2 separate regions of the Homo sapiens genome follow, and region 1 is linked to region 2. A link means that fine-mapping ties the variant in region 2 to the expression of a gene that starts in the linked region. Tissue or cell type: whole blood. Region 2 holds a variant in brackets; the other region holds the start of a gene. All regions are shown on one strand. Distances are between the middles of the regions.

The links.
Region 1: SLC41A3 starts here. The variant in region 2 is fine-mapped to the expression of SLC41A3 in whole blood (INTERVAL, PIP above 0.99).

The regions. Positions count from the first base shown.
Region 1 is chr3:126,075,138-126,091,652 of GRCh38, reverse strand. SLC41A3 (solute carrier family 41 member 3) reads left to right here and starts at 7,529. Exons shown (of 11, transcript NM_017836.4): 1 at 7,529-7,560. It overlaps ALDH1L1-AS1 (ALDH1L1 antisense RNA 1), which reads right to left and starts at 7,438. Exons shown (of 8, transcript NR_190231.1): 1 at 7,201-7,438. RefSeq lists silencers at 7,182-7,731, 7,772-7,881.
Region 2 is chr3:126,049,001-126,065,515 of GRCh38, reverse strand. SLC41A3 (solute carrier family 41 member 3) reads left to right here. Exons shown (of 11, transcript NM_017836.4): 3 at 14,466-14,573. It overlaps LOC124909425 (a long non-coding RNA gene), which reads right to left and starts at 8,695. Exons shown (of 2, transcript XR_007096055.1): 1 at 8,526-8,695; 2 at 7,288-7,598. RefSeq lists an enhancer at 6,185-6,684. The variant C/G (reference allele first, on the strand shown) is at 9,038.

The DNA of each region.
Region 1 (16,515 bases), 26 kb before region 2:
CTTTTTAAGTCTGATAAGAAACATTTACAATCTACTCTCTCTGAAGCCTGCTACCTGGAGGCTTCATCTGCATAAAAAAACCTTGGCCTCCACAACCCCTATTTCAACCTAGACACTCCCTTCTGTTGATTCCAGGTCTTCAGATAAACTTTTTCAACCAATTTCCAGTCAGGACGTCTTTGAATTCACCTGTGACCTGGAAGCCTCTCCCTCCACCCCGACCCCTCCTGCCCACTTCCAGTTGTCTCTCCTTTCTGGGCCTGACCAATGTAAATCTTTCATGTGTTGTCTTTTGTTTCCCTAAAATGTATAAAACCAAGCTGTAGCCAGACCACCTAAGGCACACGTTCTCAGGACCTCCTGAGGCTGTGTCATGAGCATGTCTTTAACCTTGGCAAAATAAGCTTCTAACTGATTGAGACCTGTCTCAGATACTTTTTGGTCTACATTATAAATAAAACCAAACAACTGTAAAATGGAGTCTATCTTCTGGCCTTGACAAATGTACCTTCATAGAGATCTGTAAGGCCAAGTTCAAATGTAGACTTCTTGGACTCCTTGGAGTTCCATGTGGCCCTGTGAGAAGAGACAGCAATGCCCCAACCTGCCTTTGTAGGTGTGTGCTGATCTGGGCACACATCCTAGAAGGGGATTGGAGCCACTGGACCTCTCAGGTCCTAGGCAGCTGGGGTACCATGCAGAGGCTCCCAGAGAACATGGCCCCTCACTCCATGACAAGCAGGGGATAAAGGCCGGAAGAGGGCATCTTCGTATCTGTTATTGACTTGGAGGGTTTGACCTTGACTTAATTTTATCCCTCAAAATTGGCCCTTACAATCTCACATGCCCCACTCTTCCTCAATAGCTGCTAGGCCTAGAGGGAGGGTGCTTTTATAGTTTCAGCAGCAGAGCATTTGTAGTGAAACAGGTCTGGGCCCAGTGGGATGCTAAACGAGGGACTCATCTCTGGCCTTCAGAATACCATGATTTTGGTTTCCTTGGAAGTAAAACAAGGAGAGAGAAATAACATTTATAGTTTGACAATTATAAGAGTAATTTGTGTGTCAGAACAGAAAAAGGAGCCTATTCAATTAGGGCACCAATTAAAAATATGAAGAAAAATTATAACCTGGTACTCTCTATAGGATTATTGTAGCCAAGAAATAATTCATGATTTAATCTACACTTTAAAAAACAAAAATTATGGTCAAAATCTACTGCCAAGTGTTACACTTTTCCTTTAAAACCATTTTTTAGCTCCTTTCTTTTCTACTAAAGAGAAATTATAGTAAGACCAATTTCTGTGTAAAGTAAGTTCTAGGCTCATTATACTTGTCCTGATTATTTGCATAAAATTCAGCAAAAATTGATTAGCCACATAGGCTCCTTCTAAGTTGGCTTTGCTGGAACTTTACCTAAAAATATACTATTTTAGTTAAAGTCTTTGTACATTAACCATTGTCTCCAACTGTTCTGTTTTAAAAGACTTTTATTGAACTTACACAAATAACTATATTGTCATAAAACCACAATCCAGATTTTGGAGAACTTAGAGAGAAAGGTACATTTGCTTAAAAAACATACTTCACTCAAATAACTAAAAAAAAAAAAAAAAAAAAAAAAAGATTTTCTTGACCTTCTTTAACTAGAGCAGCATCTTTTAAATGAGATGTCTATTTACCTCGGAAATACCATTCACAAGCCAAGCAGCTCATGAGAGCTGTCTATCAGGCACTGTGGAATCCAGCAACTCCTCCCAGAGTTAGAATTAGTCCTAAGAAAGGGCTCCTTGTTTATCAGTATCTCCTCCTTATATTCCCAGGTAGCAAGATTCTATGTAAACCATTTTTATTTTATTATGGAACTCTTTTGGGCACCATTGTTTCCATTAACATAGGGATAGCTTCAATTAACATTCCAGATTAAGGCAGTAAATGGCCCTCAACTGGAAATTCTCTAGTTTAGTTTTTGTCATTGGGAAGTACTCAGTCTTTTGCCATCAGCCCCAGTAAATGTTCCACAAACGATATGAAGTGGAGGATTTGTCCTGACTAGTATTCCAGCTTCTACCCTATAGTATGTGGGTTCAGAAAACCTTACTAGTTCCCATTTGGTGTGTCCAATTTCTCAAAAGAGCAGATTTACATGCCCTTAGTTTTATAGCACTAGAAAGGGGAAACATCCCTCAGTCAAATGCAGTACCCATTTTCATAAGACATTTAGGTAAAAGGTGTTACAACTACCTTACATAAAGTTTGTTTAAACATCTTACATTTCATTATTTTATTAACCTGTATGTTTTTATGTCCTGGTCCCAGGAACCTTTTTCTACCCCAAGACCATTTTACCTTTTCTGGTGAAAAAAGGTTTGGGTTCCTAGCAGCAAGCTGCATCTGCAAAACTCATGAGGGATAGCAAATTTGATAAGGCTTCTCAAGCAGTCGTTATGATTCTGTGGGAGGGGCAACCATGTAAAAGGGACCCCCTCAACCCCCAAATTTACCATGACTTCGGTAATAGGCATATTTGGTGGAAGGATATACCAGTTATCCTAAATCCAGTTATATGGCTTGCACATGAAGCATATTAACTGCTTCATCTGAGGTGCTTGTTTCACTTGGTATTTTATACAGAGAGCTGGGCAGTCCCCTTCTCAGGGCAACCAGACATTATGGTGGCATTTATCTGGTCCACTAGACTAACTGTTCTCTCAGGAATGACCTCTTCTGCATTTGGATCATATATACTCATTAGTGATTGTTCAATAGTGAGCTGTGGGGTGCTGCATCAACCCAAACAAGCTCTTAATTTCTGTAGCATTTAAAATTAAGGATTTTGTCCTTAAAGTGGTTATTTTTACAATCCGCTATACATTTTTTTAAGAAGCTGATGATACAAATCTACAAAATGAAACAATTTCTTTATATTATACCCTCTGGTTTTAAATAGTTTTGCCCTTCCCCCACATTGACTATCTTTTTGATAGCCACAGGTCTGAGTTAACTTTTGTTGCTCTGGCTTAATTGTTCTATTTAGTTTTATCTGTATATATTTTTTTCTTCATTCTAAAGCAACTCTTAAGTAGTTTTTTAACTAGCGAAGAAAAACCTACTTTCCTTTTCTGGCAAAATCAACATCCTTGTGTTTTATAAACTTCACCAAAAACATATTTTATGCTCCTATTTTAACTTTTAGTAATTCAAAATTTCCAGTGATAAAAACTGAGGTTTTAACATGACTTTAAGATTTTAAATTACTAGAGAGTTTTGAGATTAAATTTGCCAAATTACTTTTACCAAAGATTACCAAGATCATGTGAATTAAAAGTCATCTGAGCTAGCATCTACCAATCTGATAAGCACTTACATTTTTAAAGTTACTAGGTTAGAGCTCTTTCATGTAGTTTGGTAGTGAAATATCACTTCCACATGACACAGATAAAGATATAACAGGCATGCAGAATTAAAAGGTCTACAAGATCTAATTTTATTGGCCTGTTTTCAAAAAAAAATTATCTCCCTTCAGATAATTTTGTTAATTATCCTATAACTATTATTAAGTTACAGGAACCAACAAAAGGTGAAGGAGAGATCTATTATCTAAGGCCATTTCAAAAGAGAAAGAGCTGAGCTTGTGAGATATCAATCTGCAGAATGTCAAAGAGACAGATTATAGAGTTTATAAATTTAAAACTTATTACATTAAAAATAAGTCAATATTTGTAATAAAATACTGTTTTAGCCAATTATTTAGTTTTGTATTAGTGTATTTTTTAAATATCAAAGACCCATCTCTAGAAAGACTACTATAATTTCTTCTTAATCATAGCCAACTGCATTATACAATCTTTTTTTTTTTAAACAAATTCCTTTTACTAACCTTATTACAACTTACATAGACCATTCACAACATGCTTAAATTTTCTGTTCTGTCCTAAATATCTTTCTTGAACAACCTAGTCATTTTATTTTAGGACAAAAATTCGCTACACAAGATTCTTTCTTATATAGTATCACTTTCCTTTTTACCTTCTTTACCAAAAATTACCTCTTTATGTCTTATGTTTCTCTACATCTCTTATTTCCTAGTTCCTTTTACCTTGTTTTATACATAACCTTTAAATAAGCTTTGAATTAGAAAAAGATATTTACCATTTAAAAAAAAGTTTTTCTATAATTTTTAAATTGGAAATTACCCAGATACTTAATACTTATTAATAACCTGAGGTCCTAAATTATATGACGTTTGTTTACAAACACTTATTCCATTACCTTTACCTGATTAATTTATTTGTTTACCTGGATTATTAACAAAAACTGTGACAGTCATTATTGAAGTTATTTCCCTGTTAACCATTTTTATAGCTGTGAATTTCAGGTGTTTACTTCAATAATGAACTTATGATTAAATATAAGAGTATTTTTTCCAGTAACTCATGATTTAGCTGTTTTCATTAAACCAACCATATTCCATGTCTTATTTATCAAAAATTATACAAGCAAAGATCATTCTGTCTTGGGCTGGGTTTTATAGTTTTATAACCCTATGGCTAATCTTATAGTATTCTGAAGGAATAAGCATGAAGCTACTTGATCAATAAATGCAAACAAAAATACTAACAATTCTTAGAACATTTTAATTTTTTTTACCAATGATTTTAAAGACAGTTTATTTATTAAATATTTTACTTGTCACGTGAACTTGAAAAGCATTGATTAGTATTTTTTGATCAAGTATTTAAGTGCTTTTATTTTTACTTAAGCTAATTAGAGCTCTTTTACATATTTTTAGTAGTGACACATTGTGTACACAACACATAAATGCATAGCGTATTAGGCATGGCAATAGAAGTACATCTTATGTATTTGTAAGACCTCTTTTTCCCTTAGACTTTTAAATTCATGATAGCCTGTTTCATCACCCTGGGCAGTTGTCAGCTAAATAGTCCTACATTTGCATATTAAAGGAAACAACTCTTAGGTGAAAAATCAGATAGCAAAATTTACATCTCAAAGTACCAAGAGACAGTCTGGTTTGCTAGAGGGAAATTAAAATGGATTTAATTTGCCATTTAAACAAAATTATAGAAGTCTATTATAAAATCCTTTTAAATACACACACACACACACACACACACACACACACACACACACAGATCCTATAGCTTTTACTTCAGAACTTTAGCCATGAGATAAATACAAATTCCCCAGCTTGCAAAAAAAAAAAAAAAAAAAAAAAAAAAAACAAGAAAACAAAGAAAAAGAAAAATAGGTTAGATCCAAACAGTGGTTTTTAATTTCAGTACAAAAGTAAAAGCAGATTTAAAGCAGGCAGAAAATATAGAGAAGAAGAGAACTTAGGAACTCTATAGTGTACAGGTTGACCTTAGGGCTCTTTTCCTTAATGTAAATGTGCACAAGGATCATTATATTTCCATTTTACATAAGCTCTGGCAAGTAGACGCACCATAAAACCAACAGAGTGCCCGAAATGAGGTCATTCTCCTTGTTTTCTCCTCATTCTTAGATCATTTGTTTCCCACCTTTTTTTTTCTTAGAAGTAGGAACTGAGCTGTGGCCTAGGGTTTTTGTGTGGTGGATCAATGTGTGCTGCTTGTGGGCAGGACCCCACCATGTGTCACCACTGAGTTGTTTCCACCCTGTTACATGTCTCAGTTTCTCTCTCCAGAGGTCTATTACCTTTGAGAGGGCTCAAAATGATGGGTGATCAGTCCTTATATGCATTCCTGGACAAGCCATTTTTAAAATTAATTTTTGTTGGGGATTTCCCCATAGGGCTGCTGCATGTCACAGGATGTCAACCCCCCCCCAGACACTCCCACAAGGCCCCCAGTCACCCAGGAGCACGTTTTGGCTGGGAGGAGCAAATGCCTTTCTCTTTGGAGTTGAGAAAACTCAGTCTCTCATTTACCTATGAAAACAACAGTTCAATTCCTCACACAAATGCGCAGACAAGCCGAATCAAGATTAATTTTGGGAGAAAAAGCAATAAAGAAAACCCTTTAGAATGTGTCTCTGAACTAGAATTAGAATCCTTAAACAACAACTTCCTAGGAGAAAAACCAGCTCACACTAAACGAAGGACTGTCAACCAAAGGGCGATCTGGGGCTCAGGAGAACTTAACCAGTTCCATCGGGGGAGAAGCTAGAAGTCTGGGAGGCTTCAATGGGCCCCACTGGTATCTTCGCTCCGAGTTCAGGCAACTCCTTTGGGGTCCTGAGTCTTCTCTGAGGCCCCACGCTGGGTGCCAAATTATTGTGGAAGAGTCAAACTCTGTAAAATATTTGAAGAGATTTATTGTGAGCCAAATATGAGTGACCACAGCCAGTGACACAGCCTTCAGGAGGTCTTGAGAACATGTGCCCAAGGAGGTCGGGGTGCAGCTTGGTTTAATACATTCTGAGGAGGCATGAGACTTCAAGTTAAGTTCATTTAAGAAATAAATTTGTTTGATCCAGAAAGGCAGGAAAACTCAAAGAGGGGGAGGGTGGTTCTAGGGTATAGGTCAACTTAAACATTTTCTGGTTGACAATTGGTTGAGTTTGTCCAAAGACCTGGGATTAAAGAAAGGAATGTCTGGGTTAAGAGGTTGTGGAGACCAATGTGTTTTATCACGCAGATGAAGTATTCGGATAGGGTAGCAGGCTTCAGAGAGAAGAGGCTGTAAAATGTTTCTTATCAGACTTAAAGTCTGTGTTGATGTTAATGCAGGAGAGGGATAATGAGGCATGTTCGGCCTCCACTTCCCCTTATGGCCTGAACCAGTTTTTCAGGTTAAATTCTAAAAGTCCTGGCTGAGGAAGAAGTCCATTCGGATGATTTGGTGGTTGGGAACGGGGAGGTGCCTTATCATTTATTTTTTGGTTTAAAATATAATGATATATTTTACCAAGTCTTGTGAACCATCAGGCCTCCCTCAGGCCCGGACTGGGAATTGCCAATTTCGTTAGGTGTGACCGTAATACTATGAGAATGTTTAAAAAAATAGGCCTTACTGATTAAACATACTCGAGTATTTAAAGGAGAATTTATCCACTGGGATGCTTTAAAATTACTCTGGGAAAAAAGGGAAAACGAAAGGCATGTGTGGGGTGAAGCACAGACTTGTCGTTGTTGTTTTTAAAGCAAAAGGCGGGTCCCAAGGGAAGTTGGCTGTCGGTGGGTTCCCGTTCTCCGTACCTTTCTACCTTGACAGCTCCATAATAAAACCTGCAGCCGCATAGGCGCCTCTCCCGTAGCGCTCCCGCGGGGGCGCCAGTGGGGCCCCAGCTGCGAGGAGGGCCCGGGCTCGCGAGACTCGGTCCCCCACTTCCGTCCCCGCGATCCCCGGCTCCCAGCCCCCCGGGCCCCCGGCGGGGCTCTGCGCTGCCGGAGCTTGGGCGTCTGCTGCTGTCCCGGAGCGCCAAGTCGTCCGAGGTCCGGCCGCCCGGCCGGGGCGGGGCCAGGGAGGCCCGGCCTTCCCGCTTCCTGCCTGAGCCGCAGGCCCGCCCCTGCGTCCTCCGCCCGCCTCTTTCCCGCCGCCGCCTGGGAGGGGACCCGGTAAGCGCGGCCCTGTTCCGGGCGGGGTTGGGGCGGAAGGTGGGGTCAGCTGGGGCCCAAGGGGGGTCGGGGAGGCGCGCGGGAGAGGGCGCCCGGGAGTGGGTGCGCGGGAGGCGAGTGAGCCGGGCGCCGGGCCCTGGGGGCTCGGCGGGAGGGGGAGTCAGGTGGGGACCGGGATTTGGGGGACTCGGTGGGGGAAAGGCGCGCGGGAGATGAGGTAAACACGAGGGGTCGGAGGGGCGGCCTGGGGCGGGGTGGGGCCATGCCTGGGGTAGGCCACGCCTCGGGGAGGCCGGGAGAGAACCCAGGCGCTGGGGGTCGCGGGGGAGCCGGCCGGTCCTACCCTTAGGTGTCTGAGGCCGCTCCCCACACCGCTGCGGTGTGCATTCAGCGGCCCTGTCTCCTCCTTCCTGGCCTGCTCAGGGCACGGCTCCTGGTTGGATGTCACACGCGTGACTCCTGCAGCGCCCGCGCGCAGGGACCCCTCGCTGCCTCAGCCAGACCTCCCGCCAGCCTCTACCACAGGCTCAGCCCACTGTCCTGGGTGGGCTCGGTGCAAACCTCTGGTGAAGAAAACCTCCTGGGGGTGCCCAGCCGGGAGTCTGTCTCAGAGTCCCACACTCTCTCCATCCAGGAGAGCCGGTGGGATAGGTCTCTTTAAAATCCCGTTATTTATTTGTTTATTTTTTCCTCTTTCTTCCAGTTTTTTCCATATGACTTTAGTGATCAAATCCCACTTTTTTTTAGAAGGCTTTTTTTACACCAGTGGTTTTCAAACTGTGGTCCCAGGACCAGCAGCACTGCCTTTCCTGAGATCTGCTAGAAATGCGGGTTCCCCAGCCCCACCCTGACCTTCTAAATCCTAAACCTTGGGGGTGGGTCCCCATACTTGTCTTTAGCAGGTCCTCCTCGTGGTTCTGACCATTGATCTGAAACCTTAGGGCTTTGAGGAGTCTGAACTGGGGTTGAGGATGGGCCAGGTGCCCTGTGATGATAATGCATGACTCCATTTAATCTTCACAGCCCTACACAGTAGGTAGTATTACCCCATTTCACAGATTAGGCAACAGAGGTACAGAAAGTTTAATTTTTCCAAGGTCACAGACCTAGAAAGGGGAGGAGCTGGGATTCCAACCTTGGGTTCCGGCTCCAGAACATTCCCACTGAGGCGAGGTCCCCTGTGAAGGTGGGGAGGGGTGAAGCCCAGAGGTCCTGGCGGCCTCCCTGCCAGGCAGAAACCATTAGTTCCAGAATCACGACCAGCCAGGTGCGTGGTCAGCAGTGGCCCTGCCTGCCTGCCTTTGGGCGAGCCCTGGTCTGTGTGAGCTGCTGGGTCCAGGTCCCCGGGCAGGATGTGTTCGCACTGGGGTGCTGACGGGGCGCCTAGAGGCCTGGGTCCAAGGCCAACCTCACAGGGTGACACAGGGATGCTTCTGGGTGACAGAGTGTCCGTTTCCTCCTCAGTCTGATGGGGGCGGATACCCCCCAACCCCATGCTGGCAGCTGGGAGGGTGGGCAGCCTCACAGACTCAGGCGTGGCTCTGAACTGTGGCCCCAGGTGGTCCACAACCTGTCCTGCCCAGCCTAGCCCCTTTCAAGGCACAAGGGTCTCTGACCACTGCCCCATAGCAGGGTTTCTCGGCCTCCACACTACTGACATTTGGGGTGGGGCAGTTCTTTGTTTTGGGGGGCTGTCCTGTATCACCCCCTGTCGGGACAACCAAAACCATGTGCAGACATTGCCCAATGTCCTCTGTGGGGACCTTGGAGGCAATGCCTCCACTGGCATCTTCTGGCATCTTGGCTCCTCCCTGGGGCTCTGGGATTAGAGGTTTCCTGGCCCACAGCCCACTTTCCCACAGGAGCCTCCTCCAGCCTGTGCTTGGTTGTTCATCTGCACGAGCTGTCAGTGACACAGGGACATTGGAGCATGTTCTCCTTGCAAACACTCCAACATTCAGGTGGAGCTGAGGGGCCTTTGGCCATGTCCACAGCTGGGAGATCCCCCACCCTGCAAGGGGCACAGAGCAGGTGTGGTGCTGACACCAGCTGGGCCCTGCTCCCGGGTCACCCTGGCCAGGCCTTCCTCTGGCACCATGTGCAGGCACAGTGAGGGTGGACCAGGGCTGGGGCTCTCTAGGTACAGCTGCACACGTGTTCCCAGCATGAATCACGGATCAGGGCTGCGCCAGCACCTGCCGCTCTGGTGTTTGCTGTCACCAAGCACAGTGGCTGCGCACTCTTGGGTTAACCTCCTCAGGCACGCGTGTGAGTGACTCACCAAGACTGTGGCTGAGTGAGGATGTGTGGCCTGGAGTGGTCACTGCCCAGTTGCCTCTGGCAGAGGCAGACCCAGAGCCCTGTGGCTGTGTTCCAGGCCCTTCTCCCCACCCCTTGCCCTAGTGGTGGTGAGGTGAGGTGCATCACACCAGGTTCATTTATTTATATTAAAAAAATTTTATTGACACATAATAGATGTACATATTTTTGAGTTGCCTGTGATAATTTAACACGTTCATGTAACTTGTAAAGATCAAATCAGTGCAATATAGACATCCATCATTTTAGAGATTGGTCTTTTATTCCAGAAACATTTGAATTCTAGCTATTCCGAAATATAAAATAGATTATTGTAAACTATAGTCACTGTATTGATTCATCAAACACGATTTCTTATTTCTTCCATCAAACTGTGTATTTCTAGCCATTAACCATCCTCCCTTTTTCCCCCTGTCCCGCCACAGGCTTTGGTAACCATTGAACTTTCTACCTCCTTGAGATCCCCTCCTTCAGCGCTCACATATGAGTGAGGCCATGTGATGTTTGTCTTTCTGTCCACGGCTTATTTCACTGAATGTAATGACCTCCAGTTCCATCTATATTGTTGCAGATGACAGGATCTCATTCTTCTTTATGGCTGAATAGTACTCCATTGTGTATATGTACCGCATCTTCTTTATCCTTTCATCTGGTATGGAAACTTAGGTTGATCCATATCTTAGCTATTGTGAATAGTGCTGCAAGAAACATGGGGTACAGATATCTCTTCAATATCCTGGTTTCCTTTCTTTTGGATATGTACCCATTAGTGGGATTGCCGGATCATATGGTAGTTCTGTTTTTAGTTTGTTTTTTTTTTTCAGAGATGGAATCTCGCTCTGTTGCCCAGGCTAGAGTGCAGTGGCACAATCTCAGCTCACCACAACCTCCACCTCCTGGGTTCAAGTGACTCTCATGCCTCAGCCTCCCAAGTAGCTGGAACTACAGGCGTGTGTCACCACACCCAGCTAATTTTTTGTATTTTAGTAGAGATGGGGTTTTGGCATGTTGGCCAGGCTGGTCTCAAGCTCCTGGCCTCAAGTTATTCTCCCACCTTGGCCTCCCAAAGTGCTGGGATTACAGGCTTGAGCCACTGCATCTGGCTTGCTTTTAGTTTTTAAAGGAACTTCCATACTGTTCTCCATAGTGGCTGAACTAGTTTACATTCCCACTAACAGTGTACGAGGAACACTTTCTCCACATCCTTACCAGTGTCCATTATTCCCTGTCTTTTTTATAAAAGCCATTTAAAATGGGGTGGGATAATATCTCATTGTGGCTTTGACTTGCATTTCTCTCATGATTAGTGATGTTGAGTACTTTTTGCATATATGTGAGCCATTTATGTCTTCTTTTGAGAAATATCTATTCAGATCTTTTGGCCATATTTTAATTGGATTTTTTTTATATTGAGTTGTTTGAATTCCTGGTACTATATATTCTGGTTATTAATCCCTTGTGAGATGAGTGGTTTCAGATATTTTCTTCCATTCTGTGGGTTATTTTTTCACTTTGTTGTTTCCTTTGCTGTGCAGAAACTTTTTAGCTTGATGTAATCCCATTTGTCTATTTTTGCTTTGGTTGCCTGTGTTTTTGAGGTCTTACACAAAAAGTCTGCCCAGACCAATGTCCTGCAAAATTTCCCCAATATTTTCTACTAGTAGTTTCATGGTTTTAAATCATATAAGCCTTTAATCTGTTTTGATGTGATTTTTTAATATAGTGAGAAATAGGGGTCTAGTTTCATTCTTCTGTATATGGATATCCTGTTTTTCCAGTCCATCTATTGAGGAGACTGTCCTTTCCCCAGAGTATGTTCCTTGTGCATTTGTCAAAAATGAGTTGGCTATAAGTGTGTGGATTTATATCTAGGTTCTCTCTTCTGTCCATTGGCTTATGTGTCTGCCAGTACCATGCTGATTTGGTTACTACAGCTTTGTAGTATATTTTGAAGTCACTATGATGCTTCAAGCTTTATTCTTTTTGCTCAGGATTGCTTTGGCTATTTGGGGTCTATTGTAGTTACATATAAATTTTAGAATTGTTTTTTCTATTTCTGTGAAGAATGACATTGGTATTTTGGTAGTGATTGCATTGAATCTGTAAATTGCGTTGGGTAAAATTGTCATTTTCATTGAAATTCTTCCATTCCTCAAACATAATGTATCTTTCCATCGGCTTTCATTTTTATTTCCCTAACCTCTTCTCAGGTGGCTGTCTAGGCTGCCTTTGTGTTTCTCCAGCTGAGCTCTTGTTCCCATCCTGTGTCAGTTTCTCCATGGTTTTCTCTGTAGGAGTTCTTCATTCTTTTTGCACACTTATCCTTTGTCTCTTGTATTGGGTCCAACTATTTTCTCCTAGGCTTTTGCTTGCTTTTAAATTTTATTTAGAAGTTTTGTCCTACAGAATATTTAAACTTTGATGTAGCTAAATTAATCATTTTTCCCCTTTGGTTTTTGCTTTCTATTGTGTGTGTGTGTGTGTGTGTGTGTGTCCCTTACCCTTAAGGAATTTAAATCCCTGATCGTGTGTGGGTGTGTGTGTGTGTGTGTGTGTGTGTGTTTCCCTTACCTTAAGGAGTTTAAATCCCTGATTTAGGTTCAAATTTTTTTCTGGCTGTCCACTTCCCTGGTTGCTCAGGACATCCAAGCCCTGCCTTTCTGGCAGAGGGAGCTGGGAAAAGTTAACCACCTCTCTTTGTTCCTGTCCATAAGCCTTGGGCGTCTGGGTGCCTGTAGCATTGCTCGGGTGACCACTGGCCTTGGCAAGAACAGTTTGCATCAGGAGAAGAGGAGGGGAGGTGAGAACACACTGTGGGCATGATTCTTTGTATAGTTTTGCCATGAAGAGGAGGAGGGGAATGAAGTGAGAGATAGCTTGACGTCAAGGCTGGGTTTATAGAGGCAGATCCTAGAGCAAGTTTCTGTTCTCATCAGATGATCCCACAGAGGTAGAGGGGAGAAACTGAGGAGGCAGGAGAGAGGGGTTCCTTGTAGGTGCGACCCCTTGAGAGGACCCTGGTAGGGTCCCAGGCCTAGGGGAGACACTGGCCTTTCTGGTGCTCTTTTAATTCTCTGTTTCCTCTTCTGCGTAAAGTGATCGTTAATAGTCTAGCCTTCCCACAGTCCCGTAAGGATTAAAGGAGGTAAAGGCATACTGCATAGGTCATCGGTAGCTGTGTCTGTTATTTTTTGAAAAGATTAGGGATCTGGCATTGCAGGGACCCCATGATCCCCACCCTGTTCTGCCAAGCATCCTTCCTCCTCATGGTTCTGGGGCTTCCACCCAGAGAAGCAGAGTGGGGCCTGGAGAGCCGGCCGATAGCTCAGCTCTGTGTGGTACGGGTTCCTCCCAGTGTGGGCAGGGTCCAAGTCCTCCTCCTCTCCTTTCTTCTCCACTAGCTGTCTCTCCATGATCTCCAGGCTTCCAGTGTGAGCCTGGCTCAGTTTTACCAGCATTGCTACAGAGGATGTGATAGGAATTTAAAGAAAATGGCTGGTCTGGCCTGAGGGGTCAGGCTGGAAGGTTGAGGACGAGAAGGTCATGAGGAAGGTGGAATGGGTTCTGCTGTTAGGACCTAAGGGATGCAGCAGTGGCCTTGCCTAGCCAGGAGAGTGGCCATTCCTGCCTGTGGGAGTGGGGTGGAGAGTTGGAGGGGCCTGGTGTGGTGAGAGGGAGGCATTTTCTGCCCCTGGCATTGGGCCCCTGCAGGTCCTTCAGGGAGGTGGGAGGCAGGTGGGAGTAGGCAGTTCCCATCTCTGTTTATTGCCTCTTGGAGCCACACCGGTGCCGCCTGGGCCCAGGTTCTCTGGGCTGGATGAGGGGCACCGTTCCTGCCACCGAGGGTGCCGCCAACTCGAGATGCCTCCCTGTGCCCTGTCCCCACTGCACATCACAGTCGCCCAGGCCGGCGGCTCCTTTGCTAACTCATCACCTGCTCCATTCAGGCCCCTGAGAAGGAAGCACGGAGGAGGCAAGAGGCGCCATGACTCTCAGCTTCTCCCTGCTGCAAGGCACAGTGTGGGGCACACATCCCTGTTCAGTTCTTCCGTCAGCTCCTCCTGAATCCATAAATTCCTTGGGAAAATGTTTTACCAGCAGTTGGGAGGCATAAGCCTACCACCTCATTCCTTACCTGAAACTGTGATTGACAAGCAAGGATGACAAGCAGGCATGTAGACATTTTACTGAACACGGGCCAGAGATGTATACTTTCTATCAAATAAAATCCAGGATCTAGAACATGGATTAAAAAAAACAGTGAGTGTGTGGGCCTGTGTCTGTGTGGGTAAACATTGGAAGGATATACACTAGACTTGCACTGATTATTTTGGAATAGTGAAATTGTCAGTGATTTTTAAAGTGTTATTTTATTTATTTATTTATTTATTTTTGAGACAGAGTCTTACTCTGTCCCCTAGGCTGGAGTGCAGTGGTGCGATTTCAGCTCACTGCAGCTTCCGCCTCCCAGGTTCAAGTGATTCTCCTGCGTCAGCCTCCTGAGTAACTGGGACTACAGGTGTGCATCACCACACCTGGCTAATTTTTTGTATTTTTTGATAGAGATGAGGTCTCACCATGTTGGCCAAGCTGGTCTCAAACTCCTAGCCTCAAGTGATCCACCTGCCTCTAGCTCCCAAAGTGCTGGTATTACAGGCATGAGCATCGTGCCCAGCCTCGTTATATTATTTTGTATTGTCTAAATTATATTTTTTATTAACACATGTCACTTTTGTAATTGGAAAAATAATCCAGTTATTTTCATTTTGGAAAGGAAAGGAGGCTGAGGTGGTTTATTGATTGTAGAATAGATGAAGAGATTGTGGGGCAGTCATACAGTTCAGTTTTCTACAGCAATAAAATAGATTCGGCAGCATGGCTGAATCTCAGAAATCTAATGTCAACTGAAAGAAACTGGACATGAAAAGAATCCGTGGAGTGTTACTTTGTTGATCTAAATCGCAAAGTAGGCCAAACTCAGCTGTAACACTTAGGGCTGCACACATTGTAAAACTAAAGAAAAAATAAAACAGATCGAGGAATGGTCATCCCCAGAGTGAGGCTAGTATCACCTCGGGTGGGGAGGAATGAGTTGTTATCAGAGAGGGGCTCAGAGTGGAGAGGCTGGTCATGCTTTGCTTCTTGAACTTAGTGGGAGTATAAGTGTGCTTGCTTTAATATTATCTCATAAATGATTCATAATTTTTTTATTGTGATATAAAGTTCATACCATAAAATTCACCCCTTTTAAATGTACAGTTCAGTAGAACAGAAAACTTATATTCACACAAAGACTTGCACATGAATAGTCATAGGAGTATTATTTATAATAGCCCCAAAGTGGAAATAACCCAAATGTCTGTCACTCATTAGTGGGTAAGCAAAATATGATATGTCCATGTAATTGAATATTACCCAGCTGTAAAAAGGAATGAAGTACTGATTCATGTAACAACATGGATGAAGCTTGACAACATTATGTTAGGTGGTATCTTACTGTGGTTTTGATTTGCATTTTTCTAACAATGAAGCTGAGCATCTTTTAATGTTAAGTGAAACCATTGTTTCATGTGCTTATTGGCCATTGTACATCTTTGGAGAAATGTCTGTTTAATTCCTTTGTCATTTAAATTGTCTTTTTATTGTTGAATTGTAAGTATTCTTTATATATTTGGGATACTAAACCCTCATTAGATATAATGATTGGCAAATACTTGCACATTTTGTGGATCGTCTTTACTTTCTTGAGAGTGTTCTTTGAAACACAACTTTCAAATTTTGATGAAATCCAATTTGTCAGTTTTTTCTTTGGTTGCTTGTACTTCAGATATCACATCTAAGAAACTGTTGCCTAATCCAAAGTCCCTGGGATTTACACCTGTATTTCATTCTAAGTGTTTTAGGTAGTTTTAGCTCTTATGTTTAACTCTTTAAGCCATTTTGAGTTAGTTTTTGTATGTGGTTTGAGGTAGGGGTTCAAATTCATTCTTTTGCATGTGATTATTCAGTTGTCCCAGCCCCGTTTATTGAAGACACTACTCTTTCCCCATCCAATGGTTTTTATACCTTTGTCAGAAATCCATTGGCCATAGATGCATGAATTTATTTATAGACTCTCAGTTCTGTTCTGTTAATCTATATTTCTATTCTTTGCCAATACCAAGTTTTACAATAAGTTTTGAAATTAGGAAGTCTGTGTTCTCCAACTTCATTCTTTTTTTTCAGGATTTTCTGTTCCCTTGCATTTCCATTTGCATTTTAGAATCAGCTTGTCATTTTCTCCAGAAAGAAAGAAAGAAGGAAGGGAGGGAGGGAGGGAGAAAGAAAAAAAAAAGACCACTGGAATTTGAATAGGGATTGTATTAAACCTGGAGATCAATGTTTTATAGTTTTCAGGGTACAAGTTTTGGACTTCTTTTGTTAAATTTGTTCTGAAGTTTTCTTCATTTCTTGCATTTCTATTGCAAATGCAATTGTTTTATTTATTTACTTTTAGATTATTCATTATTAGTGTATAAAAATAAAACTGGCCGGATACAGTGGCTCACAGCTGTAATCCTAGCACTTTGGGAGGCTGAGGCAGGAGGATCAGTTGAGCCCAGGAATTTGAGACCAGCCTGGGCAACATAGCAAGAC
Region 2 (16,515 bases):
AGGTTCAAAGTGGGTGTACACAGCTGTCGTGCTGGTCTGCATCGGTTTGTTGGCTGGTTAGTGTTCAGTTCAGTGCAAACATTTCAAAACTGGAAGCTTTTCATTAAAGTGCTTATATTCAGCTCCTCTTTAAAACTCAGAAGATTTGGCAACATGTGGTTTTTGTATCAGTTTTATATCGCTGTGTTCCACATTACCACAAATTTAACAGCTTAAAACAGCACGCATTGATTAGCTCATAGTTCTGTAAGGCAGAGGGCAGGCATGGTATGGCTGGGATCTCTGCTCAGGGTCTCAACAGCTGAAATCCACGTGCTGGCCAGGATGCATTCTCTTCATGAGGCTCTGGGGGAACATCCACTTCTAAGCATAGTCCTGTCTTCAGAACTCACCTCCTGGTGCTGGGTTCCTCCCTGAGGTTGAAGGACTGCAGTTCCATTTCCTTGCTGGCTATCAGCCAGGGGCTGCACTTCACTTCTCGAGGCCACTCCTACGTCTTGCCTTGTGGCCCTTCCATCTTCAAAGGCAGCAGTGGAGAAACCTCCCTTGGGTGAAATCCCTCTCTGACTTCAGGAAGCACCTGCTCCCTTTAAAGGGTTTACCTGATGACGCCAAGCTCCTCCAAGTTAATCTTTCTGAAATTCCACCAGGACTCCTCACTGGAATGCGTGGAGCAGGCAGGAATGGCAGCAGTCTCCAGAAACTGATGCAGTCCTGGGCTCTGTGGGTGGACTGGGATGAGCATTGTGTGCATGTGCCGGGAAGAACGGGGGTCTCCAGGCAAGCTATGGCCTTACAGAGACACCGAGCGGTCTAGAAAGGCCAGGAGGGCAAGAGGGCTGGCTGGAGGGGTGTTTCATGTGGGCAGAGAGAGAAGACTGGGGGTGCGGGAGGAGGTGAGAGCAGCCTGTTTTAATTGCCTCCTCTTTACTCTGCTGGTGAGGGTGGGGAGTCCTGCCCTAGGGTTATGGGGATGGTGGACACTCAACACCTGGCTCTGGACAGGTGAGGACCACGGCAATTTGTTAGTCCTCATACCAGTCACCCAGGCAGGAGGATGCTGCACACCTTGCGGGGCCACTGGGGAGCAGAGTGAGTCAGCAGGGGATGTGGGGGGCAAGATTTGTCATAACAAGAGAGTGGGAAACCTGCCCTCCATTCCTGACTATATGCGTAATTCCACAGGGTGGCAGAAACTGAAGCGTGCTCCTCGGGGATGTGGAGGGACAGTTCCTGCCCTGAGATAAGGAGGCTCTTGGGCTGGGAACCTCATCCACAGGAGCAGAGTCAGGAGGGGAACGCGCCGCTCACATTATCTTGCTTTCTCCAGGTGTTGAGGCCGCACTTCGTAGTTTTAGGCCTTACCCCACCATTGACCCCTTGATGCCTCGATGCCAGCTTAAGTCTTGGTGGTGACTGAGACTTCCAGGGAATAGAAGAGCCTCTCCAGGAAGCAGCACAGACCCTTGGCCAGGAGGGAGAGTACCATGTGGTGCTCTTGTCCAGGAAGGGCAACAGAGGGATTTGGTGGCCTGGGTATGGGGAGTGTGTGTCCCCGGGGGGGGGTTGGATCTGGCTTAATCAGTGCCTGTGACAGTGGTGACACCCAGTGGAGGTCACCTTGCCACCTGTCACTTCATCGGAGTTGAAGTGAGGGGCCCATGTGCCTCCTGCTAACCCTGGCTGCCTGTGGCCCACCCAGGAAGTAGAGGCTCCACTGGGTGCTTCCTGCAGAGCTGGTGCTCTATATTTCAAGAAGGAAATGAGGGCCTTGGCCACCGTCGGCCATGTCTGAACTTTAGAGAGGATCAGGAGTGACTGGCTGAGGCCTTGTGTGTGGCTGTAGTATATGTGTAGGCATTTGTTACCCTGTTTTATGTTTTGTGTGTCAGTGAGGCAGGAAATTCCCAGAGCTCTCTACCCCCAAGTGGGGCATCTTTGAGGCTCTGGGCCAAGAGCCTGTGCCCAGGTGCAGAGGGAGCTGCCAGCAGGCCAGGGCGCCTATGCTGTTGATTGCCTGATGCTTGGCCACTGCGCTGACCCTTAGAGGTTTGCTCTTTATCAGGGACTTCCTGGTTAAGATGGGAAGCAGCAGCCTTCCCCTGAGCTCCCTTGCATATTACACGGCAGCACCCACCGTGAAGCCTATAGCTCCCACCGTGAATGGCCAGCCCATCTCAAGGGGCCTTGGGTAGCCAAGAGGCCCAGGGAGGGGTGACTCCTCTGGCACCATGGCGTCTGGCAAAGGACTGAGGACAGGGGAGACCACCCCTCCTGCAGGTGGCATATGCCAGAGAGCCCAGGTTTGGCTCCATTCTATTTTTAAGGAGACCTCAGTAGCTGTACTGAGCTTGGGGGTGCCACATGTGAAGGCATAATGGGCAGTGGGAATGGAGGGTCACAGGCACAACGTCTGTGAGAACCTATGCTTCCAGGAGAGCCCAGCATGTGTCCAGCAGCTACTCCTCTGATGGTGCACAGTGCAGGGTGGAGGAGAGCATTTCCCTGGATCCGCAGCCCCTAGACAACTTACGGCCATCAGCCTGTAGACTCCAGGGCTTGAGGGGAGGTTGCTAATGCCCCTCTCTTCCATGAAGGCGTTTCTGGGGGCACTAATAAGAGTAACTGCTGATATTAACTTGGGCAGATCCTAGAACCTTTTGTTGGAGTGGCCTGTTTGAGTTGGCTTGCTTTGCAGATGACAGCATAAATGGGCGTAAGTAAAATTTGTAGATGAGAAATATGTTGCTTCCAAAACCCAAAAAGAACTAAAAGATATTGGAGACTTGTATTAATGTTGTGGATGCTGAGAAGGTTAATACTTCTTTTGTTGCAGTGTTGGGGACGGCTCTCAGTTTACCAAGTAATTTTCAGGCATTTAACCAAGGTGCCAGGCCTCGCACCACATGTAGGGTGATGGCCCCCTCTCTCATTGTGAGTGCCTTTGTGAGTTACTTGTATGCCCTTAATGAGTGTGTCAAAAGAGCCTCTGCGGAGGAGGGCATCATCAGTGTAATGTAACTGTGCTCCTGAGAAAGGCAGATGCAGGGGAGACCTTGGCCGCATGACTGTGTGTGATGGCAGAGCTGCGGAGGTCCCTGTGGGGAGCCTGGAAAAGGTATCTAGTGTCCCTTTAGAGGTGAAGGCCAACTGTGTCTGAGAGGCTGGTGAAATAGGCACTGAACAGAATGTATTAGCCAAGTCTATAGCAGCAAAGTACCAGTTGATTTGGATGGAGTCAGTGATTTCAATAATATTCGGTATTGGATGTGGGGGTCTGAATGGACAGGGTCATGCCATTAAGGTGGTGGTAATCCACCAGGAGGCACCCTTTTGTTCTCCCCAGGTTTAGGAATGAGCCATATTGGCCTGTGTAAAGGAGAAGCAGGAGGATTGACATACCCTGTTTAAGTCTCACATAATAAATTTCCCTCCTTGAAGGTCCTGTTGTAATTTGCATTGGGTAGTATTAACTGTTTTAATGGTGAGCAGGGGAGGGTCTGTGGAGTCTCATCTTGTCAAGCCAATTTGTAAGTCAGACCAGGTGGCAGGAGTGCCAGGGAGCACCCACCAGCCCCACACCAGCCTGTAGTCAGTTAACAGTGGTTCTCGTCATGGGGGCGAAAATAACCCTTTAGGGTGGGAGGAGATGACAGAGCCCAAGAGAGACAGCAGAGGTTCAAGCCAGCAATTTGCAGTTGCATCCCAACTGGCTGTGTGGGCTTGTTAGCAAGCAAAGAACAGGCAGGGAGAGCTGGCCAGGTGTCCTCAGTCACGGTGGGCCCATCTGTTTGTGAGCCTGTTGTTATGGTCACCTCCTCTTCACCTCATCAATGAGGGAGGGGGTCTCACCCTTGGGTTAAGGGTATGGTGGACCCTTGACACCCAGCCCTGGACAGGTGAGGGCCACAGCAGTTCGTTCATTCATTCATTCATTCACTCATTCAGGCAGCATATACTGTGTACCTGTGCCAGGCAGACACCCCTGCCCTCATGCCGCTCACACAGCAGGTTCTGGGGTCAACGTTGATAGCAATGAGGGCTGTGTGCTCCAGCAAGTGGTGGGAGCGGCCCTGCGGAGGGAGGCCAAGAAGATCCCCCTTCCCCAGGAGGAGGTGTTGCAGGGGAGGCAAGAGAGGCTGCTTGGAGACAGTGTGGGAGCAGGCCAGCCTGGCAGGGGGTGGACAAGTCTTTCATCTTCACCTGTGGGTGGGTTCTGCCAGTCGAGATCAGAAGCAGAAAATAAAGAAGAACCTTAACAGTTATTTAAAATTTAATTGGCCTGATCTGTGAGACCTGAACAAGATGGGGGAAGAATTCATGCCTGTAAGAATGACCATCTGGCCCAGAACCTGCCGAGGGTCAAGGTGACCCTGAGAAATGAATTGGATGCTGCGTTGGAAACTGCTCCTGGTAAACAAGCAGTTCCCACTGCAGTGTCAGAAATGTACTCCAGAGCCCCTGCCCACACTCTGTGGACCCTCCCCTAAAAACACACCCCAGTAAGAACGAGGTGGTGGGCAGAGATCAGTGGTCCTCAACGTTCTGATCCTGTGGTCTTTGTGGAGCCTGGGCGGCCTGTTGCAGAAGCTCCTCAGGTGGTCCTGGTGCCCCTGATGGGTGAGCACCACTGATCTTGTGCCACTTGCTCATGCTGTGGGCTGTGGGGTGGGTTGGAGGCCCAGAGAAGGTCACACAGAAACCGCTGGACCCGGCTTCCACCTGCTGCTCCGTGCAGCTGGAATCTAGTTCAAGCTCTTTGAGATTCTTCTGCTGTGCTACTGAGCTATTTTTAAAACCACACTTTTGATTTTCTGGATTATAACCCAGTGAGCTGTGTTGACATGTTTTCTTCTCAGGTTTTCACAGGAAAGTCATTTTTCTTATATAGTTACATTATTTGCTTTTGATAGTTTTTTATTTATAAAAGCAAATAGTCACAATTGTCAGAATAGACAAAAAATTATAAAGATTACTTATGAACCCACCACCCAAAGGCAACTACTGTTAACATTTTGGTATATATCCTTCTGAACGTTTCACTGTGCATGCACGTGTGTGTGTGTGTGTGTGTGTATCCTTCTCACTTTTTTTTTGAGACAGAGTTTTGCTCTTGTTTTCCAGGCTGGAGTGCAATGGCATGATCTCAGCTCACCGCAACCTCCGCCTCCCAGGTTCAAGTGATTCTGGTGCCTCAGCCTCCCGAGTAGCTGGGATTACAGGCATGCGCCACCACGCCCAGCTAATTTTTGTATTATTAGTAGAGACGGGGTTTCTCCATACTGGTCAGGCTGGTCTCGAACTCCCGACCTCAGGTGATCTGCCCGCCTCAGCCTCCCAAAGTGCTGGGATTACAGGCATTAGCCACCGCACCCGGTCTCTCACTCAATTTTTAAACAGATTTGAGAAACATTTTTGTAATGATTTGTAACTACTTGGTCAGACACCTCTTTCTATATGAGAGTCTGCAAATGGTTGTTTATTTCTGCGTCTCCTGTGCTGATGAGGGTGGTTCCAGGATTCACTGTGTATGATTATACGTTGTGTGATGATGTTTGACCACGTCCGAAACTATGATGACACTGTGAGAGGTGGTGACACCTGAAGGAAGTGATCACCTGTTTGGGGGCTGCTCAGCTGTATGCCTTGGGAATGTGCATCCCACAACAGGCCTTGAGCAGCCAGGGAAACTAGGCCAGCCTTAAAGACAGAGGACTCTGTCTTTAACCAGGTGATGCCTTTAAACCAGTAACCTTCTGCAACACTTCTCTCAGAATCAGGCCATTTCTCTCTGCCTCCTGCCGGTTCAATCTCCTGTTTGAACAAACTGATCCTAACCATGGATGACGGGCAGTGATGGGGTTGGCAGGCAGCCCAGAAGCTGAGGGTCTCGGCCTGCCTTTGACACTAACTTGCTGTGTGATCTTGGGAAACTGTTCATTTTCTTCATTTGCAAAACAGAATGCTATAGTTCCTGTGAACATCCCAGGGCTGTTGTGAAAATGATAGAATGTGAGAGAGCTCTGAGAAATACAGAGTGCTGCACAAGGGAACAAATGGGCACTCCTTCATCCAATTGCAGTGACTGAGTGTTACGGGCATTCCTTCATTCATTTGCAGTGACTGTTTGCGTGTGGCCGAGTCTGCTCTGTGCCCTTGTTATGCCCTGGGTTTGCTTCAGAGCACTTATCACAGATCATCCTTCCTTTCTTTCTTTCTTTCTTTCTTTCTTTCTTTCTTTCTTTCTTTCTTCTTTCTTTCTTTCTTTCTTTCTTTCTTTCTCTTTCTTTCTTTTTTGACTGATAACCTGTGTTTGTTCTGCTCGCAGTGTACCCTGGCATTTAGGGCGGAGGCTGGCAATTACTAGGCCCTAAGTACTGATCTGTGGAATGGAGCCATGGAGAAGCCCCAAGATTGCAGCAGTGAGAAGGGCTCTGTTCTCAGGAGGGGTGCGTGCCAGGGAGGGAGAGCAGATACACCTGCATTTTATGCTTCTGTTATGCAAAAGTGGGACCTGTCTTCAGGAAGGTTCAGAGAGTACGTTGGGAATTCTGGGGAAAGAGCTGTTAGGCTCTGGCTGAGAGGAGGTGCCTCAGCTGGCCATGAGGCCTGGCAGACGTTTGGCCTGGGTGATGTGTTGGCCTGCAGCAGAGGGGAGGAGCACGGGCATGGCCCCCGTGAGGGTCATGAGAAGTTCTGTCTGCAGCTGCAGCATATGACCATGTACTTGCAAGAAGGAGGCTCACGTGGATGTGTCTTTCCAGATTGCAAGGGGTCCGGATGCTCCTTTCTCAGGCAGTGTGTTGACCACACACTGTGTGAGCAAGGGCCATCCTCACAGTGCACCTGTGGGTTGTGCCTGTGAAGAGCACACAGTGGTTTTGTGAGGAGACAGATTAGAGGGACAAAGGGCCGTGGTGAAGGCAGCGTCTGTGGGCAGGAGTGGGGGACAGCTGTGGGAGAGGTGTGGGGACAGGCAGAGTGGATGTGGGACTGAGATGGTAGGGGCTCCGAGTGAGGCTTGCATTTCTGGCTGCACCTTTCCTTGAGGCAGGCCACTTGGGAGAGGCAGGCTTGGAAGTGGCAGTCCTGAGAGACTGGTGGAGTGAGATACATGCTCATCCCTACCAGAGCCTGGGTATATGATCTGAAAGCTCAGAGGAGAGGTCTGGGCTGTGAGAGGTTTGGGAGTTGCTACATCTGAAATAGCGAGATCACGGATGAGGAAGAGATTCCCCAAATGCAGTTAACTACGGCTATGTAACGAAGGACACCCAAGCTTAGCAGTTTGTTTAAAGCCAATTATTGTTTGATGCGGAATCTACAGGTTGGGCAGGGCCCGGTGAGAAGAACCGCCTGCTCTGCGTGCGTGGTGGCTGTTGGGCCAGCCCAAGACGGCCCACTCATGTGCAAGGCTGGGCTGTGAGCAGGACCCTGGCATACGGCCTCTATGTGTGACCACGTGGTCTTCCTCACAGCAGAGTGGCTGGGAGCATGAGCAGCCCAAGAGATAGGACATAGAAGTTGTCAGTTTCTTAAGATCCATGCCTAGAAACTGACTACCACAGCGTCTCTTCCACTTTGTTCTCTCGGTTAAGCTGTGGGGACAGAGGGAAGAGGGGGTCAGAAACTCTAGCTCTCAGTGGGAATTGTGCTGGAGTTTAGGGCCAGTTATGCATTGCTCCTATGAGGGGCTTAAAAATATCTGTTGAATGAATGAGTAAATGAAGGGTGTGCACAAAGACGCAGTGCAAGAAATATTGGGGGCACGAGGGGAACAGGTGCTGGAGAAATTCGTCTGGAGTTCGGTTGCAGGGACAGCCTTGGGGAGGCCGGTAGGATCCACACTGGGGAGGGCAGTGGACTCCAGGCTGGGGTCTGCACTTAAGCCTGGGATAGTCCGACGGGAGAACCAGGTAACGTGCCCACTAGGGCGACAGTTTAGGGATGGGAGTGGAAGTGAGGCCTAGACCCGACCACAGTGCTGGGTTCAGCTGGTGTGAGTCTGACCCCCAGCTTCGGGCTTCTGCCTGCCCCAGCCTGCCCTCAGGCCTGAACATTCTGTTCCTGGTGCCTGTGGAATGCGCAGAGGACACACCCAACAACAGAACCCCAGGAGTCAGAGGTGGCTTCCCAGCCCCTTCTCCTTCTCTGGGTGAGGAGGGGTCAGCAGGGCCAGTCTGACATTTGTAGCTGAAGAAAGCGAGGCCACTTTGGAAGCATGTTTATGAGTCTTCCAGGCCATGGAGGGAGAACAGGCCTGCGTTTTTTTCTGTGAACACAGCTTCCTGTGGCCATGAACCCCCTGGCTGGACACAACTTGAGATGACCCAGGGCGTGGCTTCCTGCTTGGGGACCCATAGACTGCTTGACCTTGAGGAATAAAACTCGAGGTCTGTAGAGCTGGCCTGAGGAGGCAGTCCCTCTGTGCTGATCTCTCCCCAGGCCCTCCTCTGCCAGGAGGGGAACAGCCCAGCACACTTGTACAGGGCGAGGTGGCAGCAGACCTCCGTGTGGGCACTCACCAAGGCCAGGCACCACGTGGGCTTCAGCTCTGTCCAGCCCAAGCCAGTATGGACCAGCCTGCTGGGCTGCTGATTGCTGTCAAGGCCGGTGCAGAGGGACCATGAGCCTCCATGGCAGACTGGCAGAGGGAGGTCCCGGCGGACACACAGCCACTGTCTGAGGAGAGCCTGACCTTCAGGGAGGGACAGCAGGGCCTGGCAGAGTCTCTGTAATGAGGCCGTGAGTCACACTGGCCTTTGTTCCTCACTCATCTGTGCTGGCCCTCAGCCGAGGGGCTGTTGGGGAACTCTCTGCAGGCACAGGGCACCTGGTGACTGGGAAGCTTCTGTTTGTGTGGACTTCTTGGGAACAGCGTCCTGGTGTGGGCCAGGAGGAGAGGACTGGAGCACCCCAGGCTCTGACTTCGTGCTCCTGGGATCGTGGTGCATTGCCTGGCCATGGTGGTCACCCAGCTGAATCTGGAGTTTTGCTTTCAGGGCAAGAAGCTGCGAGGCTTCAGCTGTGAGCTTAC[C/G]CGGTCCCCACATGGGGTCTTGCCTGAATCTTTCTTCACCATCATGTGCCAGGTCGTGGTGCCCATTCTGCTGTCCGGCTTGTGCATGATGACAGCCGGCCTGGTGATGAACACCATTCAAGTGCGTACTGGGTGTTTGGGGGATCAGGGGTGGGAGACACACAGACTGGGTCTCCTGGCACCACAGACAGGGCAGGCTGGAGACATGAGGGGCCTCTACAGTGGGAGGGCAGCCCTCAACCTGCCCTTGCTGCTTGGGCGTCCCGGGTGTCAGCGAGGCTGGCAGGAGGGACCTCCAACGCTGAGACCTCAGCATTAGAGATTCGCAGAATGATGGAGGTTTGTCAGAACCTTAGCCTGCATGTGCCTCCTCAGCCCAAGGAGCTCAAACCGCCTTCCTCCCAGTGTATGTGGGCTCAGGAGGCAGAGTCTGCCACTCACCAGTGGAGGGGATTTTTAGTCACACTGTTCTGCCTTGATTTCCCCATCTGTAAAATGGGGATAATGAAAGCCCTCACCTCACAGAATTGTGAGGACCAGATGACTGAGTCTGTATGCTGTGGTCCCTGTGGGCAGAGCTGCAGTGTGCCCAGCCCGCAGCATCCTGGCGTGGCCCCTGGTAAAAAAGGACAAGGTTTGCAGCCCTGGGGGTGCAGGTGGGAGGGCCATGGCGGTCTCCCTGCAGTGGAGGCGTGTGCTGAGGGAGATTTGCTTATCACAGTCTGTTTCTCCCCTAGCATGGTTTGGGCAGCGTATTGGAATCATTGAGAGGTTTGTGCTATCTGTCAACTGAAACATTTCGTAGAGTCAGTTTAGAAAAATTGGAAAATACACCCAAGCAATGGAGGAAGGCTGTCCCTTCATCTCTATCACCGCTGCTGTGGACCTTTCAAGACAATTTTCTATGTACATATAAACATATACATATATGGTTTATAGTATGCAGTTTTGCTTTTTGTTTTTTTGAGACAGAGTCTTGCCCTGTCGCCCAGGCTGGAATGCAATGGCGTGATCTCGGCTCACTGCAACCTCCGCCTCCTGGGTTCAAATGATTCTCCTGCCTCAGCTCCCAAGTAGCTGGGATTACAGGTGCCCGCCACCAGGCCCAGCTAATTTTTTTGTATTTTTAGTAGAGACGGGGTTTCACCATGTTGGCCAGGCTGGTCTCGAACTCCTGACCTCGTGATCCACCCACCTCAGCCTCCCAAAGTGCTGGGATTACAGGTGTGAGCCACCGTGCCTGGCCTGCAGTTTTGCTTTTTAATCTGTAAATATAAATTTAAAATTTCAACCCATGAGGACACCCCAAGTAGCATTTCATGTTCCCGAGTGTATGCAGCACCTCCTTCCTAATGGCCACTCAGAGTCTTTCTGTGCCCCTGGGTCCAAGTTGGAGAGGGGCAGTCTGTACCCACCAGGCCACCCAGCCTCCTAATCTGAGCTCACGATGCCTCCCAGGTGGCTTCTGCTTGCTCGTCTCAGTTGATGGGACGCTCATCCCCTTTTGGGGCTGGGGTGGCCTTTTGCATCCTGGCCAGCCCCCCATTAGAAAGCCTGTGCTTCTGTGGGCTTGCAACCTGAATACCCACTTGTTCCCCCAATAGCCTCATCCTAGAGCTGTGCTGAGAGCTTGTCGCTCCTTCCCTGAGACCACCCTGCTGATGCTGGGGAGAGAGACTATTAGGCGTTCCGGAGGGCTGGGCAGGGAGTGGAGGCCACAAGGAGGTGTTTGCCTGTGAAGGAAGAGGGAGCAGTCATTCTTCCTAGGGGCCAGGGGATCTGCAGAGGAGCAGGACAATTTGATTTGGACTTTAAAGGTAATGTAGCAATTTCCAGGATGCCCTGAAAAGACGTGAACATTCCAAGCAGAGGGATTTGTGTGCAAAGATACAGGTGAATGATAGTGTGCATTTGTGGAAAGTGAGAGACAGGGGTGGCCGCTGTCATGGGGACAGTGATACTGGGCAGGAGTGAGGGGCTCTGTCTACTCTGCTCAGAGGGTGTGCCGTGCACTGAGTGTAGCAGGTGTTTGCTTTATGTTAAAATGAGTGTCTTGCTGGTTTTATTGAAGGGTAGCATAGACACGTAGGAGAGCACACAACTGTGCAGCTCCATGGACCACCTCAAGGTACAGGGGCCTTTGCAGCCCCACCTGGGGCATCCTCAGCAGAGCCCCAGCAGAGTCCTCTGTGCTTAGTCATCTCAGCCCCACCTCTGACTCCAGTGCTGTGGGTTTGCGTTGACTGTTCTTGACATATGCCTGTGTGTCTTTGGGGTTCATAGGACTTATGTGTTAGGTATACTCAGGAGAGGAGTTGGCAGTGAAGGGTTACAGGTGGCTGAGTGATGGGGTCATATTTGTGCCACAAAACCCACCCCAGACAGTGGTGTCAAAGATGACCCCGAGGGTGAGGCCGGAGGAGCAGGGGAGAGCTGGGGGACTGTGGGCAGAGTTCAGAGCCCCTCAAGTGCAAGAATCATTATTTCTGATGATTTCAGCCTCCCCAATGACTGATATAGGCATCTTTACAGTGTTGCTGGAGAGGGCGGTGGCAGAATTTAAAAGTTGTGATGACTTGAATGTCAGATTGGGGAAAAGAAGGTGTTGAGTCCTGGCTGGCAGAGCAGGAAGGACACGGGTGGCAAGGAGAAGTTTGGAGATTTGGAGTTTGAGGTGCTTGTGGGGTGTCCAAAGTTCAGCCAGAGTTGGATGGGCAGATCTGATGCTCACAGAGACTTCTGAGTCATAGACACTGGGAGGCACCCACACAAGCCCAGGGTATCAGTCAGTGTATTTGCTATTGGCTGCAGGTAACAGGAAACCTAACTCAAAGGGACTTTAAAAACAAAGACACTGATTATCTCTGTAAAGAAGTCTAGAGATAGGACAGTGCCAGAATTGGTTAGGTAAAAACAAAGACACTGATTATCTCTGTAAAGAAGTCTAGAGATAGGACAGTGCCAGAATTGGTTAGTTACTGGATTAACAGTGTCACCCAGTATTTTTTCACTTTACATTTGTATTAGTTTGCTAGGACTGCCATCACAAAATACCACAGAGGAGGTAGCTTAAACAATAGAAACTGATTTTTTTCCGCAGTTCCAGAGGCTGGAAGTCTGAGATGAAAGTGTTGGCAGGGTTGGTTTTTGAGCTTTGCAGATGGCCCTGTGTCTTCACATGGTCTCCCCTCTGTGCATGTCTAGGTCCTAATTTCCTCCTCTAATGAGGATGCCACGCATACTGGGCTAGGACCCACCCTCATGACTGCATTTCAACTTAATTATCTCATTAAAGACAGTCTCTCCAAATACAGTCATGTTTTGGTACTAGGCATGAGGACTTCACCATACGAGTTTTGGGGGACACAGTTCAGCCAGTGTCCATAGACTTTAGTCCCGTCACGGTTGTGTGATACCCGATGTGACCAGACAGGACTTCTCAGGTCTCACTGACCAGTCATAGCAACGTCTGGCAAGGAGGATGGGACCACTATGCATCAGGATTCAGCTTCCCCCGCCGTCTTCCGCCCAGGCTTCCTGCTGAAAGCCCCGGGAGCATGGAGCAGGTGGGGTGTCTGCTGGAAGATAGTGCTGTGTGCACAGTGGAAGGGTACTCGAGCTGCGGAAGGGAGAGGGTGTGAGGAGAAAGGAGAACTGAAAAGAAAGCAGGAAGGAAGATCGGTATTAACATGGTCAGGAGGAAGAAGAGGGGCCGAGATGGGGTGGATAGTGAGGTTGGCAAAGGACTGGGGGTGGAGGCCCAGAGGCCAGGGGAGAGGGTACAGAGCTGTGCCTGTCAGCAGGTGCTTTATCCGTGGAGGGGAGGACAGTGCCACCCTGCAGGGAGAGCAGCAGATGGGGCTTACCCATCAGGAGGCCACCACTTCCTTTAGGGAGACGGTGAGAGCCATAGAGTTGCAGCACTGAGGGTGATGGGTGAGAACAGGCACTTGTTCAGAGGTAGTAGTGCTCAGAGAGCAGGAGGAAGGCTGCTGGGTGGCGCAGGCTGAAAGGAGGAGTTTGCTGTGACTTTGGGGTTGGTAGGTGCCGGGTCTTGGGTATAGACAGAGAGAGTGCCCATGAGCACGCTGGGCTCCACAGGACGTTAGGGAGGGTGTGGGTGGTGGTGCCCAAAGGCCAGCTGGGGAGTACTTGATGATGGCCTTGGTTCCCCTGCTGAGGACGGAGGCCCACCCTATGTGGAGGGTGTGCAGGCTGAGAGGACAGCTGCACAGAGCTGTGGCCAGATGCCACCAGGAGACTGTGAGGTGTGGGAGGACACCCTGCCTGGTGGCATTGTTTTCTTCTCAAGTTTTAAGAGAGGGCAAACTCAGAACTCCATCAGAGCTGGAACTGGATTCTGAATTCCACAGCCTGGTAGATAAGGTACAGGAAGAAACTAAACAGTGCTCATCTTCCTTGGTCTGAGAGCAGAAAGGAGTCTTAAAGGGCCTCTGGTCTGATCTCTTCACCTTCACGCCTGGTCAAGCCTGTTGCTGGGCAGCTTATGGATGACTGTCCAAGTCCCTAGGGGCTGGGTGGATTTGCACATCTTTACACAGCTCTTGCCTTGTAGGGGATGGACAGGGCCTAGATCCCAGGCCGCCTTTCTCCTTGATGACGAAGCAGGGATTTGTTTCCAGGTCTAGAATTCCAAAACCAGGAGAAGCTTCTAGTGTTAGGCGTCAAAGATCTCAGCAGCAGCCAGACAGGCAAAATAAATCAGTAGGATCAGGTGGGGCATTAAAACTGATTTAGGGGAACATCTAATTGCACATTAAACAGTTAAGAATTGTTTTCACCTCTGCCAATAAGTGTTTTCTCTTCCATTTTCCTTGAAGCATGAATCCCTTTCATCTGTCTTTGAAGTTATTGATTTTTCTACTTTTAATGGGATAGAGGCATATTCTATCTGTTTTTAAAAACCCTGAGCCCCACAGGGTGCTCAGTGGCAGCAGGCACGCAGTCCCTGGACCTGGGGGCAGAGGGAGGCAGGGCCTGCATGGCCTGTGTGAAGATCGTTGATCCCCGGTAGAGTCAGGGCCCTTCCTCAGCCTGGCCGTCTTGTGGGTGTTTCTAGGCCTCCCCATTCATGAGAAATTCCCATCTTTCTCATCCGGGACCTGTGCATGCCTCTAGAGAACCCATGGTGCAGAGCACATGCAGCATGGCTGCCACCCGCTGGCCTCCAGCCTGGCCCAGCCCCCAGTGTGCTTACGGCCGCTGATACTGATTCAGTTAACAGCACTAAAAGGTTTTCACAGCTTCATTTATTTCTGTTTAGTTTAAAGCCATTTAAGAAAGTACTTAGTCCTATTTGTTCATTTTATAGGGAGTGAAAAGTGACTTGCTGAAGGTTCTCTCAAGAAATTTCCAGAGATTTGCTGATGTGTGTGTTTGGCTTATCTCCTTACTGTTTCCCTACCAGCACTGGCCTGTGTTTGTGGAGGTGAAAGACCTTTTGACATTGGTGCCGCCCCTGGTGGGCCTGAAGGGGAACCTGGAGATGACACTGGCATCCAGACTCTCCACAGCTGTAAGTGGACACCTGGACATTCGAGGCGGCCACAACGTGAGGCAGGCGCGTCCCTACCACCTGGTCTCCCCTGGCTTGTGGGCGGTGGGTTGGATTCTCCAAAACAATGGATATTTCTGGGTTTTGATACCTCATCATGCTGTCCCTTGTCCCTCTCCCAGCCCAATGCCTTGGCTTTCCACTACCAAACTGGATGACTGAGGGATGTGCACAACCCTGTTTGCCCCTGTTCCTCCTTTGACCTAAATGTCAGTGGGTGCCTTGTGCCCCGAGTCTGCACACCGCCCTGCCACCCGCATCCACCTGGACCCTGAGCTCAGCCCCATCACACGTTCACACAGAAGCCACGACAAGCAATGCAGACCTGATGGAGGGTTCCATGGAGGAGACAGGAAGGTTTTGTCACCCAGATTAACCTTTCTCAGTGGCTTCTGCTCCCCAGAATGGCTCCCTGAATGCTTGATCACTGGAGGTGTCTTCTCTGGGCTCTTGAACCAACACAGTTCCTAGCTTTACCAGCTCTTCTCACACCTTCCCAGCTATCCCAGGAGACTGAAGCTTTTTCCCTTCTACTACACAGAATGGTTTCTCCCTTTCTCTGATGCCCATGTGATATCCTGTAGGTGACAAAGACTGTGGCAAGAGGAGGTTGTGGTGTGTTCAAGGATCTGAGAGGACAGCAACGTAGCTATAGAGTAGAGGGCAGGTGGGGTGGGGGCAGGGGGCTGCCGAACATGAGGCTGAAGAGATAGGTGAGGCGCAAGTGGCTGAACAGTGGCCCCAGAGATAACCAGGTCCTGGTCTTGGAACCTGTGGATGTTAACTTATAGGGAAGAGGCCCTTGCAGAGGTGACTAAGAGAAGCCCCTTGGGATGGGAGATTGTCCTGGATTATACAGATAGACCCAGTGTAACCACAGGGGTCCTTATAGAGAGGAACAGAGGGACGTTTCAGACAGGAAAAAAGGCCATGTAGTGGAAGCAGCATAAGAGAGGAAAGATACTGTGCTCCTGGCTTTGACGACAGAGGAAGGGCCATGAGCCAAGAGATGGAGCTCTGTGTGCTGGGAAAGAGAAGGAAACAGATTCTCCCCTAGAGCTTCCAGAGGGAGTGAGGTTTTGATTTTGACCCCATAAGACTCATTTCAGACTCCTGTCCTCTAGAACTATAAGAGGATAGATTTCTTTTGTTTTAAGCCACTAAGTTTGTTACAGCAGCGAGAGGAAACTAACACATGGGGCCAGATCATGTGGAGCCTTGTGGGATGTGGAAATGTCTGAGCAGCTGGTAACATGATACAGCTACACACATGCACACACAACTCATGTATACACATGCATACGTGTGTGCACAATTGTTTTGGTCAGTGTTTGGGAGGGAAAAAAATGTTGATAGTAATCTCTGCCATGGAGGCATTTCAGGTGTTTGTTTCATAGTGTTTAACTGCATTTTTTTTTTGAGACAGTTTTGCTGTGTCACCCAGGCCAGAGTCCAGTGGCATGATCTCAGCTCACTGCAACCCCTGCCTCCTGGGCTCAAGTGATTCTCATGCCTCAGCCTCCCAAGTAGCTGGGATTACAGGTGTGTGCCATCACACCCGGCCAATTTTTGTATTTTTAGCAGAGGCAGGGTTATACCATGTTGGTCAGGCTGGTCTTGAACTCCTGACCTCCAGTGATCTGCCCGCCTCAGCCTCCCAAAGTGCTGGGATTATAGGCATGAGCCACCGTGCCCAGCCCGTAACTACATTTTAAACACTTCTCTACAACGATCGTATCTCAGTGTTTTAATTCTCTTAAAATATGTAAAACATGAGAGGAAGAAAAGAACTATTAATGTAATTCTTGAACTTCCGACCTCGTGATCCACCCGCCTTGGCCTCCCAAAGTGCTGGGATTACAGGCGTGAGCCACCGCGCCTGGCCATATTAATGTAATTCATT